5 linked regions of the Homo sapiens genome follow. The protein of the gene in region 1 interacts with the protein of each later gene in a pairwise test. Each region holds a gene or a part of one and is shown in the gene's direction. Other genes may lie near its edges. The genes, in order: SGO2, PPP2R5D, EXOSC8, PPP2R5A and CDCA8.

Region 1 (4,000 bases):
TATATTTTCTGTAGATACAAATGTAAAATGTGATTTAGGAGTATTCATCATTTCTAACTTATTTTCTTATAAGCATAGATTCTTAGTAATATTAGGATCTGATCAGAACACATTGTCAGAAATTATATCTGTGAAACAGCTTGATTTCGAATCTAATTTGTTTAAGGTAACTTATTTATTTCATTACTTGTTTCTGAGTTTTGTTTTCCTTTTCTTAATAGAAAGCCATTCCCACTCAGACCAAAGTTCTAAGACTTCTCTAATGAGTGAGATGAGAAACGCCCAGTCTATTGGCCGCAGATGGGAGAAACCATCTCCTAGTAATGTGACTGAAAGGAAGAAGCGTGGGTCATCTTGGGAATCAAATAATCTTTCTGCAGACACTCCCTGTGCAACAGTTTTAGATAAACAACACATTTCAAGTCCAGAATTAAATTGCAATAATGAGATAAATGGTCATACTAATGAAACAAATACTGAAATGCAAAGAAATAAACAGGATCTTCCTGGCTTATCTTCTGAGTCTGCCAGAGAACCTAATGCAGAGTGCATGAATCAAATTGAGGATAATGATGACTTTCAATTGCAGAAAACTGTGTATGATGCTGACATGGATTTAACTGCTAGTGAAGTCAGCAAAATTGTCACAGTCTCAACAGGCATTAAAAAGAAAAGTAATAAAAAAACAAATGAACATGGAATGAAAACTTTCAGAAAAGTGAAAGATTCCAGCTCTGAAAAAAAGAGAGAAAGATCAAAGAGACAGTTTAAAAATAGTTCAGATGTCGATATTGGGGAAAAGATTGAAAACAGGACAGAAAGATCTGATGTCCTGGATGGCAAAAGGGGTGCAGAAGATCCCGGTTTTATTTTCAATAATGAACAGCTGGCTCAGATGAATGAACAGCTGGCTCAGGTGAATGAACTAAAGAAAATGACCCTTCAAACTGGCTTTGAACAAGGTGACAGAGAAAATGTACTGTGTAATAAAAAGGAGAAAAGAATAACAAATGAGCAAGAGGAAACATACTCTTTATCCCAAAGTTCAGGTAAATTTCACCAGGAGAGTAAATTTGATAAGGGTCAGAATTCCCTAACTTGTAATAAAAGTAAAGCTTCTAGACAGACATTTGTGATTCACAAATTAGAAAAAGATAACTTACTCCCAAACCAAAAGGATAAAGTAACCATTTATGAAAACCTAGACGTCACAAATGAATTTCACACAGCCAATCTTTCCACCAAAGATAATGGAAATTTATGTGATTATGGGACCCACAATATATTGGATTTGAAAAAGTATGTCACTGATATTCAACCCTCAGAGCAAAATGAATCAAACATTAATAAGCTTAGAAAGAAAGTAAACCGGAAGACAGAAATAATTTCTGGAATGAACCACATGTATGAGGATAATGATAAAGATGTGGTGCATGGCCTAAAAAAAGGTAATTTTTTTTTCAAAACCCAAGAGGATAAAGAACCTATCTCTGAAAACATAGAAGTTTCCAAAGAGCTTCAAATCCCAGCTCTTTCTACTAGAGATAATGAAAATCAATGTGACTATAGGACCCAGAATGTGTTGGGTTTGCAAAAGCAGATCACCAATATGTACCCCGTTCAGCAAAATGAATCAAAAGTTAATAAGAAGCTTAGGCAGAAAGTAAATCGGAAGACAGAAATAATTTCTGAAGTGAATCATTTAGATAATGACAAAAGTATAGAATACACAGTTAAAAGTCACTCACTCTTTTTAACGCAAAAAGATAAGGAAATCATCCCTGGAAACCTAGAAGACCCAAGTGAGTTTGAAACACCTGCTCTTTCTACCAAAGATAGTGGAAACCTGTATGATTCTGAGATTCAAAATGTTTTGGGGGTGAAACATGGCCATGATATGCAACCTGCTTGTCAAAATGATTCAAAAATAGGTAAGAAGCCTAGACTAAATGTATGTCAAAAGTCAGAAATAATTCCTGAAACCAACCAAATATATGAGAATGATAACAAAGGTGTACATGACCTAGAAAAAGATAACTTCTTCTCTCTAACCCCAAAGGATAAAGAAACAATTTCTGAAAATCTACAAGTCACAAATGAATTTCAAACAGTTGATCTTCTCATCAAAGATAATGGAAATTTATGTGATTATGACACCCAGAATATATTGGAGTTGAAAAAGTATGTTACTGATAGGAAATCTGCTGAGCAAAATGAATCAAAAATAAATAAGCTCAGGAATAAAGTGAATTGGAAGACAGAAATAATTTCTGAAATGAACCAGATATATGAGGATAATGATAAAGATGCACATGTCCAAGAAAGCTATACAAAAGATCTTGATTTTAAAGTAAATAAATCTAAACAAAAACTTGAATGCCAAGACATTATCAATAAACACTATATGGAAGTCAACAGTAATGAAAAGGAAAGTTGTGATCAAATTTTAGATTCCTACAAAGTAGTTAAAAAACGTAAGAAAGAATCATCATGCAAGGCAAAGAACATTTTGACAAAAGCTAAGAACAAACTTGCTTCACAGTTAACAGAATCTTCACAGACATCTATCTCCTTAGAATCTGATTTAAAACATATTACTAGTGAAGCAGATTCTGATCCAGGAAACCCAGTTGAACTATGTAAGACTCAGAAGCAAAGCACTACCACTTTGAATAAAAAAGATCTCCCTTTTGTGGAAGAAATAAAAGAAGGAGAGTGTCAGGTTAAAAAGGTAAATAAAATGACATCTAAGTCAAAGAAAAGGAAGACCTCCATAGATCCTTCTCCAGAGAGCCATGAAGTAATGGAAAGAATACTTGACAGCGTTCAGGGAAAGTCTACTGTATCTGAACAAGCTGATAAGGAAAACAATTTGGAGAATGAGAAAATGGTCAAAAATAAGCCAGACTTTTACACAAAGGCATTTAGATCTTTGTCTGAGATACATTCACCTAACATACAAGATTCTTCCTTTGACAGTGTTCGTGAAGGTTTAGTACCTTTGAGCGTTTCTTCTGGTAAAAATGTGATAATAAAAGAAAATTTTGCCTTGGAGTGCTCCCCAGCCTTTCAAGTAAGTGATGATGAGCATGAGAAGATGAACAAGATGAAATTTAAAGTCAACCGGAGAACCCAAAAATCAGGAATAGGTAGGTTAATAACCATTATGAAATGATAAAGTTTTAGAAGTGTTTTGTTTTTTGTTTTCGTTTTTTACTTAGCCAGTGAAGTATTTTCTAACTGGTATTTTTATGGAATTTAAAAACAATATATAACTGAGTACATGATCCATAGAAATAGCATGAAGGAATAAAGAAAGTTTCATACTTTGGGAAATAACAGTGAGAGTATCTTGGACATTTACAACTATAAATGGATTTGGCCTTTACCACAAACTTGTCTAATAAAGACCATAGGCAAATAATTTGCTTTTTCATACATCTGAAGGAAATTGAATGTTTTAAATGTATATAATAATGAATTGTACTGGTTTTTATTTTACTGAAGACAGTTGCATGTTTCTTGAGAGTGAGACTCTTTCCCCATTCAACAACGTATATTTAATGTGATCAAACCCTTCTAGATATTATAGAGGACTGAAAAATAAACAATACCAACCCCCTTTCCTCAGATTCCATGTATGTAACAAACATCATGGTGAAATGGAATAAACGATTCTTTAAGCACATGTATTATGCTAAGGGATATAATGGGGAGTAATTTTGACTAGAGGAATCTTCAAACGCATCCTTAAATAGGTAGCATTTTAGGCCCTAAAGGATAAGTAAGATTTTTACCTGTAGTATTTACTTTTTATTTTTTTCCCAGTTATTAAAATAGTACTCATTGCAAAAAAATCAAAAGTAGAGAGTCAGAAAAAGGGAGGGGGAAAAAATCACCTGGGAGAACTTTAGTCCATTTACCATGTGCATGCAGACCCAAATCTATGGAATTTTAAATATATATTTCTTTTGCCATTAGAAATTTTGTAATATTAAAC
Region 2 (4,000 bases), on another chromosome or scaffold:
GAGTGCAATGGTACGATCTCGGCTCACTGCAACCTCCACCTCCCGGGTTCAAGCAATTCTCCTGCCTCAGCCTCCTGAGTAGCTGGGATTACAGGCGCATGCCACCATGCTTGGCTAATTTTTTTGTATTTTTAGTAGAGACGGTGTTTCACCATGTTGGCCAGGCTGGACTTGAACTCCTGACCTCAGGTGATCCACCCGCCTCAGCCTCCCAAAGTGCTGGGATTACAGGCGTGAGCCACTGCACCCGGCCCTTATGCGGTATTCTAAATATCTCCTTAATAATCCTTATCACTCAGCTCTGTGACGATTTGTCCCCATCTGTGTCTCTCCTCTCAGACTGTGAACTCCAAGGGAAGGAGCTATGTTATTCTGCATTGCTTCTTTCCTACCTCTGTGTACTTGTGCAGTTGGTTCATAGTAAATGCTTCTGGGAAGACACACTATGGGCTCAGTCTCCCTTTCAGGAATGATTATAATTGTGGGACCCACAGGGAAGGTGGTTGGAAGCTGGTAACTTGACATTTAGAGCAGCAAGAAACAGGATTTTCTAAGTCCTGAAAATCCTGGGAGAGGAAGGAAAATTTAATGGGGAGTTCCCACCTTTTGCCTAACTCCTACTTCTTTAGTTCTTAGATGGGATGTCGTTTCCTTAAAGCAGCCTTCTTTGACCACCCACCCCTATCCCCAGGACCTCGCGAGGGCTTCTGTTAGTTGCTGTTTTGGCACTCAGTACCTGGTAGCGCTGGTAGCACCTAACCACAACTGTCATGAAATAATTCCTTGTGAATTCATTGTTTTATCGGCTGTCTCTTGTGTTAGCACGAGAGCTCCATGAGGCTCTCATTCACTCCTGAAGGGCCTGACACAGCAGAAGCACCCAGCATTTGAATGTATTAGTGAGTGAATGAGTGAACGAGTGAATGAACAAATGCACCAATTTCACATTAGAGCTGAAAAGGACCTTAGGGTCTAACGTTATCAGTTCATAGATGGGAAAATGAAGCCTGAACAGGTTAAGGAGTATGCTGAGACCAACTGCTATGATTTATCCACTGCCTTTCAAACAAATATGCCTAAGACAATGGGTCTATTACAAGCAATCTGGGAAAGGAGGGTGTTGAGTTCACCTTGGGCTGTTTGGTGAAACGCTGCTCAGGGTTCACAGGTATGAGATGGCAGCAGGAATTATCCATGATTTTGTAGAAATGTACCCACGTCTGGTATGGCAGGGGTATGGGGAAAAGTTGGAGCTAGGATGTGAGGCTGTGGTCTTCAAAAGCTGTTTGGCACAGTCCTTCCCTTGCCCTTTTTCTTTTGAGATGGAATCTTGCTCTGTCGCCCAGGCTGGAGTGCAGTGGCGCGATCTTGGCTCACTGCAAGTTCCATCTCCTGGATTCACGCCATTCTCCTGCCTCAGCCTCCCGAGTAGCTGGGACTACAGGCTCCCGCCACCACGCCTGGCTAATTTTTTGTATTTTTAGTAGAGATGGGGTTTCACCATGTTAGCCAGGATGGTCTCGATCTCCTGACCTCGTGATCCACCCGCCTCGGCCTCCCAAAGTGCTGGGATTACAGATGTGAGCCACCGCGCCCGGCCCCCTTGCCCTTTTCTTGTCCGGAATTTTGGGCTCTTCTAGCCAGCTTTGCTCTGTCAGGCATTTGCCAGAGCCTTTCTAATTGATCTAATAGTTATAGCAGCTGACATTTATTTTATAGAGCAGTTACTTTGTGTTAGTTTCCTAGGGCAGCCATAATAAACTACTACAAATAAGCCCGGCATGCTGGCTCACACCTGTAATCCTAATGCTTTGGGAAGCTGAGGTGGGAGAATTGCTTGAGGGCAGGAGTTTGACACCAGCCTGGGCAACATACAGAGACCCTGTCTCTACAAAAAAATAAAAAATAAAAAATTAGCTGGATGTGGGGGCATGTGCCCCTGTACTTCCAGCCACACGGGAGGCTGAGGCGGAGGATCGCTTGAGTCCAGGAGTTCAAGGCTGCAGTGGGCCATGATCGTACCACTGCACTCCAGCCTGGGTGACAGAACGAGACCTTGTCTCAAGAAAACAAAACAAAACAAATTATTACAAATTGGGTGGCTTAAAACAATAGAAATAGGCTGGGTGCGGTGGCTCACACCTGTAATCCCAGCACTTTGGGAGGCTGAGGCAGGTGGATCACCTGAGGTCAGGAGTTTGAGAGCAGCGTGGCCAACATGGTAAAACACTGTCTCTACTAAAAATACAAAAATTGGGCTGGGCATGGTGGCTCACACCTGTAATCCCAGCACTTTGGGAGGCCGAGGCGGGTGGATCACCTGAGGTCAGGAGTTCAAGACCAGCCTGACCAACATAGTGAAACCCTGTCTCTACTAAAAATACAAAAATTAGCCAGGCGTGGTGGCACATGCCTGTAATCCCAGCTACTAGGGAGGCTGAGGCAGGAGAATCGCTTGAACCCAAGAGCCGGAGGATGCAGTGAGCCGATATTGCACCATTGCAACCCAGACTAGGCAACAAGAGCGAAACTCCGTCTCAAAAAAAAAAAAAAATACAAAAATTAGCCGGGCGTAGTGGTGGCGCACCTGTAATCCCAGCTACTGGGGAGGCTGAGGCTGGAGAATTGCTTGAACCCAGGAGGCGGAGGTTGCAGTGAGAGGAGATCGTGCCATTGCACTCCAGCCTCGGTGACAAGAGGGAAACTCTGTCTCAAAAAACAAAAAACAAACAAAAAAAGAAATACATTCTCTCTCAGCTCTGGAGGCCAAAAGTTGTAAAATTAGTGTCGGCAGGGCCATGTCCTTCTGAGGTTCTAAGGAAGAATCTGTTCCACATCTCTCTCCTAGATTCTGGTGGCTTTTGACAATCTTTGGCATTCCTTGTAGATGCATCACTTTAATCTCTGCCTCTGTCTTCACACAGCATTCTCCTCCATGTGTCTCTGTCTCTGTCCAAATTTTCCTCTTCTAAGGACACCAGTCATATTGGACTTAGGTTTCACCCCAATCCAGTATGATCTCATTTTAACTTGATTACATCTGCAAAGACCCTGTTTCCAAGTAAGGTCACATTCACAGATTCTAGGTGGACATGAATTTGGTGAGGGGAGGGGGTAGGGGACTGGATACTGTGCAACACTATGTACCAGGCACTGTGCTAAGTACTTTGCATACATTGTCTCATTTAACCTTCACAATACTCCCCTGAGATTCCTTTATTATTATTATTCCCATTTCACAGATGAAACTGAGGCTTAGAAATGTTAACTGGGCACAGTGGCTCACGCCTGTAATCCCAGCACTTTGGGAGGCCGAGGAGGGCAGACCACCTGAGGTCAGGAGTTCGAGACTAGCCTGGCCAACATGGTGAAACGCTGTCTCTACTAAAAATACAAAAATTAGCCTGGCATGGTCCAGCTACTTGGGAGACTGAGGCAGGAGAATTGCTTGAACCTGGGAGGTGGAGGTTGCAGTGAGCTGAGATTGTGCCACTGCACTCCAGCTTGGGGGAGAGAGCAAGACTCTTGTCTCAAAAGGAAATGTTAAGTAGCTTTTATTCAGCCAGTAAGGCAGTAAGGCAGAGCTGGAATTCAACCCAGGTCTGTGTGACTCTGGAGTCTCTTGTGGTCTTGAATGAAGTGATACTGCTGGCTCTAAGATTCTAGAAGTGAATCCTAGAATGGAAAGGAGCCTTGGGAGATCAGGTGAGACCCCACTGACCTGCCTCTGCAGGTAAGGGTCTTTCTTGATCTGTCCTTGGAAAAAAAAATTCAATGTCCTCACGCCTGTAATCCCAGCATTTTGGGAGGCCGAGGCGGGCGGATCACCTGAGATTGGGAGTTAGAGACCAGCCTGGCCGACATGGTGAAACCCCATCTCTACTAATAATACAAAAATTAGCTGGGCATGGTGGGGCATGCCTGTAATCCCAGCCTGTTATCCCAGCTACTCGGGAGGCTGAGGCATGAGAATCGTTTGAACCTGGGAGACAGAGGTTGC
Region 3 (3,665 bases), on another chromosome or scaffold:
CCTTTTGTGTTTAATTCTATTTTAGCTTGTCTGGGTTCTATACTGTGATCTCATTTGCCTCGACTACGATGGAAACATTTTGGATGCCTGCACATTTGCTTTGCTAGCGGCTTTAAAAAATGGTAAGCAGCCTTACAAAAAAGGCAATATTCCCACTCATGGGTTAGAATGTTGTTTTGTGAAACTTTTAATGTACATTTGCTTTCGTATGCTTCCAAATTAATGAATGTAATGCTGACATGACTTTCCAAATATAGTTGATAGTTGTATATTCTCTAACTGAATGCTCTTTAGAGTGCTGCTTTGACTGTACCCATCTACTTAAGTTAGGACTTCAGTCCTTTCCAAAATAGTGTTAATATTGGTGGGAGAAGGAGACAAGAGTTGTAACTTCTGGCTAGGTGATTGGTGAAGATCTGCCAGTATCCTCATAGTTCTTTATGTGATATTGCCAAAAGAAGTAGAATGGATTCTGTTGTTTTTACTGTGAGGCCATAGTAATAGGGAAGTTTCTTAGCAAGGAGTCTAGGTTGACTGATTAGTTACAGATTTCAATAACTTGTGCATATTCCCTATCATTGATGAATGATGAATTGGTAGGAACAAATAATTGGAGGTGGAATATAAAGTTAGCACAGCAATATTATAGTAGAGTGGTTAAGTGAATTGGAGGTAGAAAATGAAGTCAGCAAAATATTATAATAGACTGGTTAAAGTAGATTCCTGGCTCTCTCACTCTGTGCTGAAGTTTCCTTATCTATAATAAAATAGGGATAATAGTACTTACTTTGTAAGAGTATTGATTAGGTGAATACAATGAAAATATGAAAATGCTTAAAACAGTACCTGGCAGATATAAATTTAAAAAAAAATCATTGACTTCTTAAACTTAAAAAAAAATTATGCAATAAGCACTAGGTAGGAATGTCAGATGTTGTGAAAAGCAATGTATATCCTCTATATTTACCTTAGTGGCTGTAAGGTGCTTTTTAAAAAGAAATGTTCTGGGCAAGTTAAATAGAGGGAAAGGTGAATTAAAAAAAAAAAAGCTTAGAAATCATTTGTTTCTTAGAGACTTACTTACTTTACAAATTTGCCTTTTCTTAGTACAGTTGCCTGAAGTTACTATAAATGAAGAAACTGCTTTAGCAGAAGTTAATTTAAAGAAGAAAAGTTATTTGAATATTAGAACTCATCCAGTTGCAACTTCCTTTGCTGTGTTTGATGAGTAAGTTAATCAAACTTACTTTAAAATTTTCTATATTTAAGATTAGGGTAATTGATGTTCAGCATTCTAACTCTTTAGGAAGTGCTATGGTGACCCTACATCCTAGTTTTCCCTGGACACTTGAGTTTCTACTTGTCCCTGCACAATTATTTCTAGTCACTGCACAATTATTACCTGTTCCTTGGTTTACTTATACCTGTGTAATGTTAATTTCCAATTCTTTCACTATAAGATTTATCTGAAGCTATCTTCAATATTTTCCAAGGATTTTAGCACGTTCAGAAATAGAAGAGCAGGGCCGGGCATGGTGGCTCATGCCTGTAATCCCAGCACTTTGGGAGGCTGAGGCAGGGGATCACCTGAGGTCAAGAATTCAAGACCAGCCTGGCCAACATGTTGAAACCCTGTCTCTACTAAAAACACAAAAATTAGCTGGGTGTGATGGCGTGTGCCTGTTAATTCCAGCTACTTGGGAGGCTGATAGTATGTTTAGTATTTTAAAGTAAAATTTGTTCCATGGATTGATAACTTATATTTTTTTCTTTTTATAGCACTTTGCTTATAGTTGACCCTACTGGAGAGGAGGAACATCTGGCAACAGGAACCTTAACAATAGTAATGGATGAGGAAGGCAAACTCTGTTGTCTTCACAAACCAGGCATGTTCCCGCCACTTCAGTCCTAAACATATGTAGATGAAAACTCAGTGTGAGCCTTAAATTAGGGAGGGCCAAATAGAATATGGGATATTTTATTTACCTAATTTTAGTATAGTTTCTTAGCTACCTAAAATGTTCTTCCATCTTAATGGTATATGTCAGTGGTTCTTAAACTTAAGACATACATTAGAATCACTTGGAGGTCTTGTGAAACTAACTTGTAGATCTTGAGACTGTACCCTGATTTACATTATCCAATTTTTTTGTTTTATAATTTGACATGACATTAATGTTTTTTGAAAAGGAATGATAACTGAGATTAAAAGTATTGGCAAAATAATTTTTCAGGTGGAAGTGGGCTAACTGGAGCTAAACTTCAGGACTGTATGAGCCGAGCAGTTACAAGACACAAAGAAGTTAAAAAACTGATGGATGAAGTAATTAAGAGTATGAAACCCAAATAAACAGCCACCACATTTTCAAAACAGATTTGTAAAAATTGTATTTGTTAACACTGTGCACAAACGTTTTATACTAAATAAATATCAAACTACATTCTTCTGAAAGATGTTTCTATTATTTCTTAGGTCACTTCCATATATATTATGTATAGTGAAACCATTTTTAAAAAGCAATGACTTAGGCAAACCAACCCTAGTTTGTTAAACCATTTCCCTGTTTTTATTTAAAAATGATAAGGTTGTGCTTCTGTATAAAGTTTGTACATCTAGCAATGTAAAATACTGACACATTAAAAAAAACAAAAAGTAGAAACTCAATTCTTTTGATTCAGTGCTCTTGTGTTTTTAAAAAAGGAACAAAAAGTAATGCAAGACTCAAAATTTTGGAGTGGTTGGCGTGCCTCTCTTCATTTTACTTTTTGACTGGCTGCCTGTATGCCGATGATGATGTAGCTGAGCTGTTTGTGCTGCTGCTGCTGCCATAGCCATTTGATGCTGCAAGAATCGCAACTGCTGCAAAAGGGAGGGAAAAAAATCGAGTTATGTTAAATGCAGGCAGGTGTAGAAAGGTGCTTTTCCTGAGTGACGAAACAACACAACTGAAAAAGGGAGAAAGCACCAAGATAACAAAAAGGGACTATACCACATTGAGACAATGCACAGTCAAACAGCACCAGTGGCACAGAAGCCTGCTAAGGGCTTTAAAAATGATTCTTGGCAAACTTCAAAATTATTTGTTACTTTGCCCTGCCAGTCTATATTGTAGTAACTCAGCAACTTCAGTTACCATTTTGTTGTATAATGATGGTTTATAGCAATATAAAACAACCCTGAATATCAAGATAGTCAACTATAATATGCTGACTTTCCTTCCTAAAATTATGGTATAACATTTTTCTAAATAAACAGGTATGACATTTACTAATAGGAACACTTTTCTGCAGTAAAATATTAGAAAGTTAACAATTGGCACTTACAACTGTCTTTCAAAATATACTGCATACTAGAAAAATGTATGTTAATGTGCCACCAGCACTTCATGAAAAATTTTATAGAGTATGGCTTAAATATACAAAATATATTCAGTGCTCCAAGTTGACTGGCTAAAATGTCAGACTTTAAAATTTGCTAAATTATTTACCAATTACTGTACAGTCTTAAAAGACAGTAAAATAAAACTAAAGCAAGTTATTTTGAGGTACTTTTGGAGCTGAGTATCTTTAAAAATGTAATCAGAGTGAAGTTGCTGGATTACTTGTATCTGTTGCTGCTGCTGTTGAAAGGCAGAGGAGAGCTGGAATCTCTGCTGAGGAAGGCT
Region 4 (4,444 bases), on another chromosome or scaffold:
ACACAAACTACTCCGTTAATGCAGAGTTGTGTTGGTCTACTCTCAGTGTATAGTCTCCCCTCTATAAATGGCACTGTCCCAGGGGAAAGCCGAAGTGCTAAGGGTAATATATTCTAACTTCTTTAACATCCTTATCCGGCTTTCTACTTTTCATAAGTTTTGGTAATTGGATCTTTTTCATCTTCTTTTAATGTTGTTACTCAGGATTTCAGACATGAGACTGTAAAGCAGAAATGAAGATAACTATAGTGAACATTTTTAACTAGAGTTTAATGTAAGCATGATAAAATGGAAAAGATTTAAGTTTTCTTAGACTGTCTCTACCACCACTTGCTGTATGACCTTGAGCATATTACAAACCTCTTGAGCCTCAGTTTTATCATCTCTAAAATGGATTAAATGAAATCAGCCAAGCTTTAACCCATTTTAGAGACCATAGTGTTACATTTCCTCTCTGTTAGCAGTATCATAACTCAGGACTGGCTCATTTTCATTTCAGGACCATTGTAGCACTGGTATACAATGTGCTGAAAACCCTAATGGAAATGAATGGCAAGCTTTTCGATGACCTTACTAGCTCATACAAAGCTGAAAGACAGAGGTATTTGATATTTTGAATTACAAAATTATCTATACATTTTATGTTAGTTGAATGTGATTCAGTTCAGGAAGGTATCTTCTCTCAGTTCAGATTTTCATATTTAAGAAGTTAATTACCTTATAGTAAACATTACAATGTGAAAGTCTCTTAACATATAAGTCATTTCCAGATAAACTAGCCCCAGTATTTTTATAAATTTGTTAAAGCAGAAAAAGCAGTAGCATTTATTTTTGAGGGTAGTTACATAATTTACTTCCTCTAAATGGTTAGATTATGATTTTAATGTGGATCATAAATCCTGTTTATCTCATTCTGAGCCTTAGATTTCCTCAGTCTGTTAGCATCTGCATATGAAATATAATTTATGCTGAATTTTAAATATCAATTTGTACAATTTGATTTTTTATCCATGCATTTACGAAAATCCTTTTTGTCCACGTGGGCTTCCAGAGTGAGCTTTACTTTTCAAGTGTTCTTTGTTAGCAGTAGGTAATTCTTACGCTGTGGATTATCAGAAGGTGGTATTTTAAAGTCAGCATAGTTCTCCTTTGGGAAGAGGGAAGTCACATAATGATATGGCTTAGGGTACTATTAATATGTTGTCCTTGCAATAATATGTATTTTAGAGTATAAATGTTAGCACGTATCAGCCTTTAGGAACATGGCCTAGTGATTACCTCTTTTTGAGAATTTCATAAATTACTATAAAATAATCTTTCAAGAGTTACTTTCTTCTCATATGTTTATTTCAAACTCAAGAAGCACTTTCTTAAACTTAAGTGGTTAGTAACCAGTGTACCTGAGCCCACCCATTATTTGAGGATAACAGTTACCATTTACTTCTAATAAGCATATTACCTGTTCTGTTTAGAAAAGCTATCTATTTTGACAAGTTCCTAGTTATGGTTATCTTAAAGTAGAAAATGGATAGCCTTTCTTCAAAGCCATCCAGCCCATTAATAACTAACTCAATGCATTATTTCCTTTAAATAGCAGCATTCAGGCAGGAATAGAAATTAAGTACATGTTTTGAGCCTCAGGAAGCAATGGGAAGAAAATAAGATGACTAGGATCATAGGAAACTTGTATTTGAAAAATATGTATTTCACATGACTAAGAATATACTCATCATTTCTTACCTGCATAAATCAGCAAATCCTTTAAAAGGATTTGTCCTTTTAACTCATAACTGCAGAATTATAAGCCTATGTTTTACATGTTCATGGAGCCTTTCAGAATAGACAGGTTCAAGTTACTCAGAAATGTTTTCCTTAGAACTGAAATTAATTAGTTGAAACGACATATGAAATATTTTGACCTTCATTTTGTTCTAGAGAAAGATTACTGAAACTAAAGTTTTCATTTGACATGTAAAAGAGGAGCTAGTAAGATACAAACTGGTTAGTGGCTAGAGATGTGGCTGTTAGTGGCAAAAATGATGTGGCTTCTGTCTGGTGTGGTGAAGGAAGTGCTTCCTACTGACCTAGTGGCCAGCCCCTTCAGCCTTTGTAATACTGATTAGACTACTACAACTGCAAGATGTTTACGTGAGAAAATTGACGTGTAAGTACTTTGTTGACTATAAAGTACAGTGTCATGGTAGTGATAATGTGTAGGGGACAGAAAGCAAGTAGTAACGTCTAGCTGGTACAGGAGATGCACAGACTCAGTACATTTAGGAGAGTGACAAGAAGAAATTAGGTGCTCCAGGTAAGTGGACTCCAAAGCTTTAGCAGAGGGATTTAAGTGAAATGTGGGTAAGTAATGTGTTCTCCAGTAAGCTGTCAAACAGCACCTCTCTTTGGGTTCTGAAATAATTTCTGATTACAAAAATTTTGGTTTATCTACAGAGAGAAAAAGAAGGAATTGGAACGTGAAGAATTATGGAAAAAATTAGAGGAGCTAAAGCTAAAGAAAGCTCTAGAAAAACAGAATAGTGCTTACAACATGCACAGTATTCTCAGCAATACAAGTGCCGAATAAAAAAAAAGCCTCCCACCTCTGCCGGATAGGCAGAGTTTTGTATGCTTTTTTGAAATATGTAAAAATTACAAAACAAACCTCATCAGTATAATATAATTAAAAGGCCAATTTTTTCTGGCAACTGTAAATGGAAAAATATATGGACTAAACGTAGCCCTGTGCTGTATCATGGCCATAGTATATTGTAACCTTTGTCTAATCATTGGATTTATTGTGTCACTTCTGAAGTTTCACAGAAATGAATGAATTTTATCATCTATGATATGAGTGAGATAATTATGGGAGTGGTAAGAATTATGACTTGAATTCTTCTTTGATTGTGTTGCACATAGATATGGTAGTCTGCTCTGTATATTTTTCCCTTTTATAATGTGCTTTTCACACTGCTGCAAACCTTAGTTACATCCTAGGAAAAAATACTTCCTAAAATAAAACTAAGGTATCATCCTTACCCTTCTCTTTGTCTCACCCAGAAATATGATGGGGGGAATTACCTGCCCTAACCCCTCCCTCAATAAATACATTACTGTACTCTGGAATTTAGGCAAAACCTTAAATCTCCAGGCTTTTTAAAGCACAAAATATAAATAAAAGCTGGGAAAGTAAACCAAAATTCTTCAGATTGTTCCTCATGAATATCCCCCTTCCTCTGCAATTCTCCAGAGTGGTAACAGATGGGTAGAGGCAGCTCAGGTGAATTACCCAGCTTGCCTCTCAATTCATTCCTCCTCTTCCTCTCAAAGGCTGAAGGCAGGGCCTTTCCAGTCCTCACAACCTGTCCTTCACCTAGTCCCTCCTGACCCAGGGATGGAGGCTTTGAGTCCCACAGTGTGGTGATACAGAGCACTAGTTGTCACTGCCTGGCTTTATTTAAAGGAACTGCAGTAGGCTTCCTCTGTAGAGCTCTGAAAAGGTTGACTATATAGAGGTCTTGTATGTTTTTACTTGGTCAAGTATTTCTCACATCTTTTGTTATCAGAGTACCATTCCAATCTCTTAACTTGCAGTTGTGTGGAAAACTGTTTTGTAATGAAAGATCTTCATTGGGGGATTGAGCAGCATTTAATAAAGTCTATGTTTGTATTTTGCCTTATGTCATCTTTGCTTCTTTTAGCTCTAAGCTTAGGCATACAGGAGAAGTCTGCCCCCCTTTTTACATACATATGTGTATTTATAGAAACTTTTAAGACAAATTGTGGGACGAAGTCTAATTTAAAAATAGGAAGATTGTGTGCCAAGGTTGAGTGTTCTAGCCCTTTACCAAAATATGTTTTACAGAATATTTGCATAAAATTCTAAGTTCTAGGATATCTTTCCATCATCTTTCATATCCTTGTATGTTAAGAGGATGGGTTTAATTTACTTTGAAGCTAATTTTTCATAATCCATAATAAATAGCACTTCTAGTGAAGAGCAGGGAGCCTGTGGCACAGTTAGAAATCAGGTATTATTGGCTGGGTGCGGTGGCTCGCGCCTGTAATCCCAGCATTTTGGGAGGCCGAGGCGGGCCGATCACCTGAGGTCAGGAGTTCAAGACCAGCCTGGCCAACATGGTGAAACTCTGTCTCTACTAAAAATATAAAAACTAGCCATGCGTGCTGGTGGGCGTCTACAATCCCAGCTACTCGGGAGGCTGAGGCAAGAGAATCGCTTGAGCCCACAATGACCCAAGATGCACTCCAGCCTGGGCGACAGAACAAGATTCTGTCTCAAAAAAAGAGAAAGAAATCAGACATTATTGTAATAAAGTGTTATCTGCTACTGATGTTTACTTCTGCTTTAATATTAAAAACTCTAGCACAGGGGATGCACACTACTCCCAGGTCATCATGAAAGCAGTGTACCAAAAGGAAGAGCACT
Region 5 (4,000 bases), on another chromosome or scaffold:
TTGTGAAAAAGCACATCTGTGTGTGCACACATGTATACACACATATGCATGTATCTGTGAGCACATACACATGTACCTTTCGATAAAGCAAGTGCAATGATATGGTTACCCCTGGGGAATGAAGGATTAGGAGACTCATCACCTTTGGAAGAAGAGATAAGAAAATGGAACAAGGAATGAATACAGAGCCAGAAGCAAGTTATTGGCAATGTTTTAGGTCTTGGGCTGTGTGGTGGGTTTATGGGAGTTTGCTATATTGTATATTGTATCACTAACATTTAACAGTCTTATGTATTAAATAATAGTTTTAAAAAAGTTTTTATCTTGAAATATTGTTCCTCATATTTTGGTGGAATAAGCCTGGTGCTTTCTGGCTATGTTTGTCATAGGCTGACCTGGATATCACCGAAATAAACAAACTAACAGCAGAAGCTATTCAGACACCCCTGAAATCTGCCAAAAGTGAGTACCTTTCAAAACTCCTTGTTGTACAGAAAGAACTGAGGCTCAGGTTGCTTGGTTGGCTGCTCAGGCAGCGCCTTGTTGGTAGAGCCTCTTCCCTTTAATGTCTGGTTCTTAATCTTGTAAATCCAAAAACTTGCTTTTGGATGGTGCATTTAGTTAATTTTTTTTCCCCCGAACAGCAATTCAAACCAGAAATTTAGTTAATTTTAGGCAGGACTGCTAAAAACCAAACTCAAGACCCGTGTGCGAGCTAAAATGAAAGTGAAAAAAGGGGGGAAAAAAGCTGTGCTAGAAACCAAACATTGTTGCCTGCTTACTTTCTCCTGGGTTAAATAGATGACAAGATTTAGAGAGGTGTTAAAAGACTGGTAACACCAACTGAGACGCTCCCTGATGTAATCAACAAAGTTGAAAGCGAATTGAAAAAGGAATGACTTTCTCTGCATATAATTCAAAATTACTCAATTCAGGCCAGGTGCGGTAGCTCACGCCTGTAATCCCAGCACTTTGGGAGGCCAAGCTGTGAGGATTACTTGAGCCCAGGAGTTCAAGACCAGCCTGGGCAATGTAGTGAGACCTTGTCTCTGAAAAAAAAAAGAAAGAAAGAAAGGAAAGGAAAGGAAAGGAAAGGAAAGGAAAGGAAAAAAAAAGTTACTCAGCTAGGCGTGGTGGCTCACGCCTGTAATCCAAGCACTTTGGGAGGCCGAGGTGGGTGGATCACGAGGTCAGGAGTTCGAGACCATCCTGGCTAATACGGTGAACCCCCGTCTCTACTAAAAAATACAAAAAATTAGCCGGGCGTGGTGGCGGGCGCCTGTAGTCCCAGCTACTTGGGAGGCTGAGACAGGAGAATGGCGTGAACCCGGGAGGTGGAGCTGGCAGTGAGCTGAGATCATGCCACTGCACTCTAGCCTGGGCGATAGAGCGAGACTCTGTCTCAAAAAAAAAAAAAAGTTACTCAATTCCATGATCTATCCACATAAAATCATCTTACATACATGTCCCGCACTCTGAGAAACACTGTCTTATAGGAAAAGTTGTATGGGAAACCAGGTTTTGACTAGTGAGCAAGGAATCGGATCAGGATGAATTGTGACATGGACTTAATGTCACTGTCATTAAGCTATGATAGTTTGATGCATCCAATTCTTATAAGAACATCCTGACCCATGGCCAGGATTTCGGGGCTACACACCAGGGCACGCTCTACAGTAGGCAGGGCAAGCTCAATTATTCAGAATGCTGGGCTGTCCCTACAAAGCATCATATGGGGTCTCTTAACACTCTGGTTAGTTTCCTTTGTCTAAACCCTCTTTCTTAAAAAGTCTTCTTTATTTTTAGTCCATTTCTTCCTTGCAGCTTAAGATTGTGTACATTTTATTCCTATAAGAAATGTGAATGCACAAAACTTTATTTTCATCAGAAATACCACCCTGTTGAAACTGTTTCTTACAGCACGAAAGGTAATACAGGTAGATGAAATGATAGTGGAAGAGGAAGAAGAAGAAGAAAATGAACGTAAGAATCTTCAAACTGCAAGAGTAAGTGGACACTGAGGTTGGAGGCTGGGGGTTATCACAAGACAAGCAAATACAAATGCATAAAATACACTGTTGTACACCAGAGCTCACAGTTTAGTAGAGATGATCCTACTTTACATGGCAATGACAAAAGAGATAATTGACTGGTGTGCAAAGTGTGTAGAACACAGAAGAGGAAGCTAGCAAGCCTCCCCTACCCCACTAGGACATAGACAGGCCTTTCAAGGTGAGTGAGAGTCTACTAGCTAGAGAAGAAAGGGAAGAGGAACAGTATTCAGGATAGATGGGGGAGGCGGAAAACTGAAGATGAGGAAACCAGTTAGAAGCCTATGAATTCTTGAACTGACATGCTGACACTATAGAATGAAGGGATGGTTTTTAGATAGGTTTTAGAAAGAAGTGGCATGGTTGGTGGAGAAAAGGAGGAATCAGAGACAACTGCATGGTTTCTAGCTAAGGCAAATGCTATCCAGTGAGGTGTGGGACCCAGGTGGCAGAGGGTGCTGGACTGGGGGTGGTGGAGCACATGCCAATTGCATGACATGTTGACCATTCATTACTTTTCCAGGACATCTAGGCTAGACAGAAATTTCAGCCTGGAGCTCAGGGAGAAGAGGGAGATTTGAGAGATACACTGCCTCCCAGATCTTTAGGTGTTTGTCCCAGTGTGGGAGTGGAGATGGTTGTGCAGGGAGAGCAGGAAGGGAGGGAGTCAGGGTGGACACTAGAGGGAGGGTAGAGAGAGGAGCTCCTAAGGCAGACTGCCAAGGAAGTTAGAGAAGCAGGAAAGACAGATCCATCACGGAGGACAAGGGAGGAGAGAATATATGGAAGATAAGGAGTGATTCTTGCCAGGGACCTCCCAGGCCCCAGGAAGGGAGCACTGCAGGGTTTGCCTTTGATTGGGCACCTGGGACGCCCTGAGTGACCTTCACAGCAGCCCTTTATGTAAAGTAGTGGGGTACAAGCCAGGCTGCAATCAGTTCAAAAGAGATTTACCTTTAATCTTGGTCAAAATCCTCTATTTTGAAAACCCAGCCAGTGGAAGTCCTTATTCAATTAGTTATGTTCTGAACTTTTTAAGTCATTGAATTCTGAGATACACCTTATTATATTTAGTATTAACTATCCAAAGCTTGTTCTTAATGCTTTAAAAAAAAAAAAAAAACCCTCCTTACCTTCCTCTTTGCTGGGTTTTTTGTAACCTTAGTCTCATTTGATTGTGACTGCAGGTCAAAAGGTGTCCTCCATCCAAGAAGAGAACTCAGTCCATACAAGGAAAAGGAAAAGGGAAAAGGTAGTGGATTTTCTAAAGTTGTGGTGTTTTGGGTTTTATTGGAGAGCCATATATATCATGGCAGAAAGTGAGGGGCAGTGAAAAGGCTCTGGTGGCTAGTGTTTGAAAGCAGCTTAAAATCACTGAATCCTTGAGTATCCAAGCTGGAGGGGTCTCTAGAAATGACCTAAACCAAAACCATCTCCAGTACTTTAATGTACATTCTCTATCCTTCCCCACTTTTTTTTTTTTTTTTTTTTGAGACGGAGTTTCAATCTCGTTGGCCAGGCTGGAGTGCAATGGTGCAATCTTGGCTCACTGCAACTTCTGCCTCGCGGGTTCAAATGATTCTCCTGCCTCAGCCTCCCGAGTAGCTGGGATTATAGGCATGTGCCACCATGCCGGCTAATTTTGTATTTTTAGTAGATGCGGGGTTTCTCCATGTTGGTCAGGCTGGTCTTGAACCCCCGACCTCAGGTGATCCACCCACCTCAGCCCCCACTTTTTTTTTTTAAGTATAGCAAGAACTGCCTGTTATGTTTCAGTTCCTGATAGTCCATATGTAGAGCTACCCCATAGCTCGTCATAGAGTGGCTGTCACTTACCTATAATTGGTTTCTTGAAATGTTTTGTCCAGTCCTGCAAAGTGAAGAACCTCTATGGGCTTGAGTTGATTATACTGGACTCTACCATAAGCCATGTGGGGGAAGGTACAGCA

The links.
Region 2: the proteins of SGO2 (region 1) and PPP2R5D interact in a two-hybrid assay, tested with the Homo sapiens proteins (one study listed by IntAct).
Region 3: the proteins of SGO2 (region 1) and EXOSC8 interact in a two-hybrid assay, tested with the Homo sapiens proteins (one large-scale study listed by BioGRID).
Region 4: the proteins of SGO2 (region 1) and PPP2R5A interact in binary tests that used the Homo sapiens proteins (3 or more experiments, as listed by UniProt).
Region 5: the proteins of SGO2 (region 1) and CDCA8 interact in binary tests that used the Homo sapiens proteins (3 or more experiments, as listed by UniProt).

What each region holds. Positions count from the first base shown.
Region 1 is NC_000002.12:200,570,829-200,574,828, forward strand, and holds part of SGO2 (shugoshin 2), read left to right. Parts: intron 1-221; coding exon 222-3,149; intron 3,150-4,000. UniProt on the Homo sapiens protein: Cooperates with PPP2CA to protect centromeric cohesin from separase-mediated cleavage in oocytes specifically during meiosis I. Has a crucial role in protecting REC8 at centromeres from cleavage by separase.
Region 2 is NC_000006.12:42,990,759-42,994,758, forward strand, and holds part of PPP2R5D (serine/threonine-protein phosphatase 2A 56 kDa regulatory subunit delta isoform), read left to right. Parts: intron 1-4,000. UniProt on the Homo sapiens protein: The B regulatory subunit might modulate substrate selectivity and catalytic activity, and might also direct the localization of the catalytic enzyme to a particular subcellular compartment.
Region 3 is NC_000013.11:37,006,950-37,010,614, forward strand, and holds the end of EXOSC8 (exosome complex component RRP43), read left to right. Parts: intron 1-25; coding exon 26-122; intron 123-1,107; coding exon 1,108-1,228; intron 1,229-1,779; coding exon 1,780-1,886; intron 1,887-2,234; coding exon 2,235-2,350; 3' UTR 2,351-2,665; downstream 2,666-3,665. Other genes in the region: SUPT20H (transcription factor SPT20 homolog), read right to left, coding at 2,723-2,860, 3,603-3,665. UniProt on the Homo sapiens protein: Non-catalytic component of the RNA exosome complex which has 3'->5' exoribonuclease activity and participates in a multitude of cellular RNA processing and degradation events.
Region 4 is NC_000001.11:212,358,187-212,362,630, forward strand, and holds the end of PPP2R5A (serine/threonine-protein phosphatase 2A 56 kDa regulatory subunit alpha isoform), read left to right. Parts: intron 1-499; coding exon 500-601; intron 602-2,451; coding exon 2,452-2,584; 3' UTR 2,585-3,667; downstream 3,668-4,444. UniProt on the Homo sapiens protein: The B regulatory subunit might modulate substrate selectivity and catalytic activity, and might also direct the localization of the catalytic enzyme to a particular subcellular compartment.
Region 5 is NC_000001.11:37,698,516-37,702,515, forward strand, and holds part of CDCA8 (borealin), read left to right. Parts: intron 1-389; coding exon 390-462; intron 463-1,920; coding exon 1,921-2,006; intron 2,007-3,238; coding exon 3,239-3,303; intron 3,304-4,000.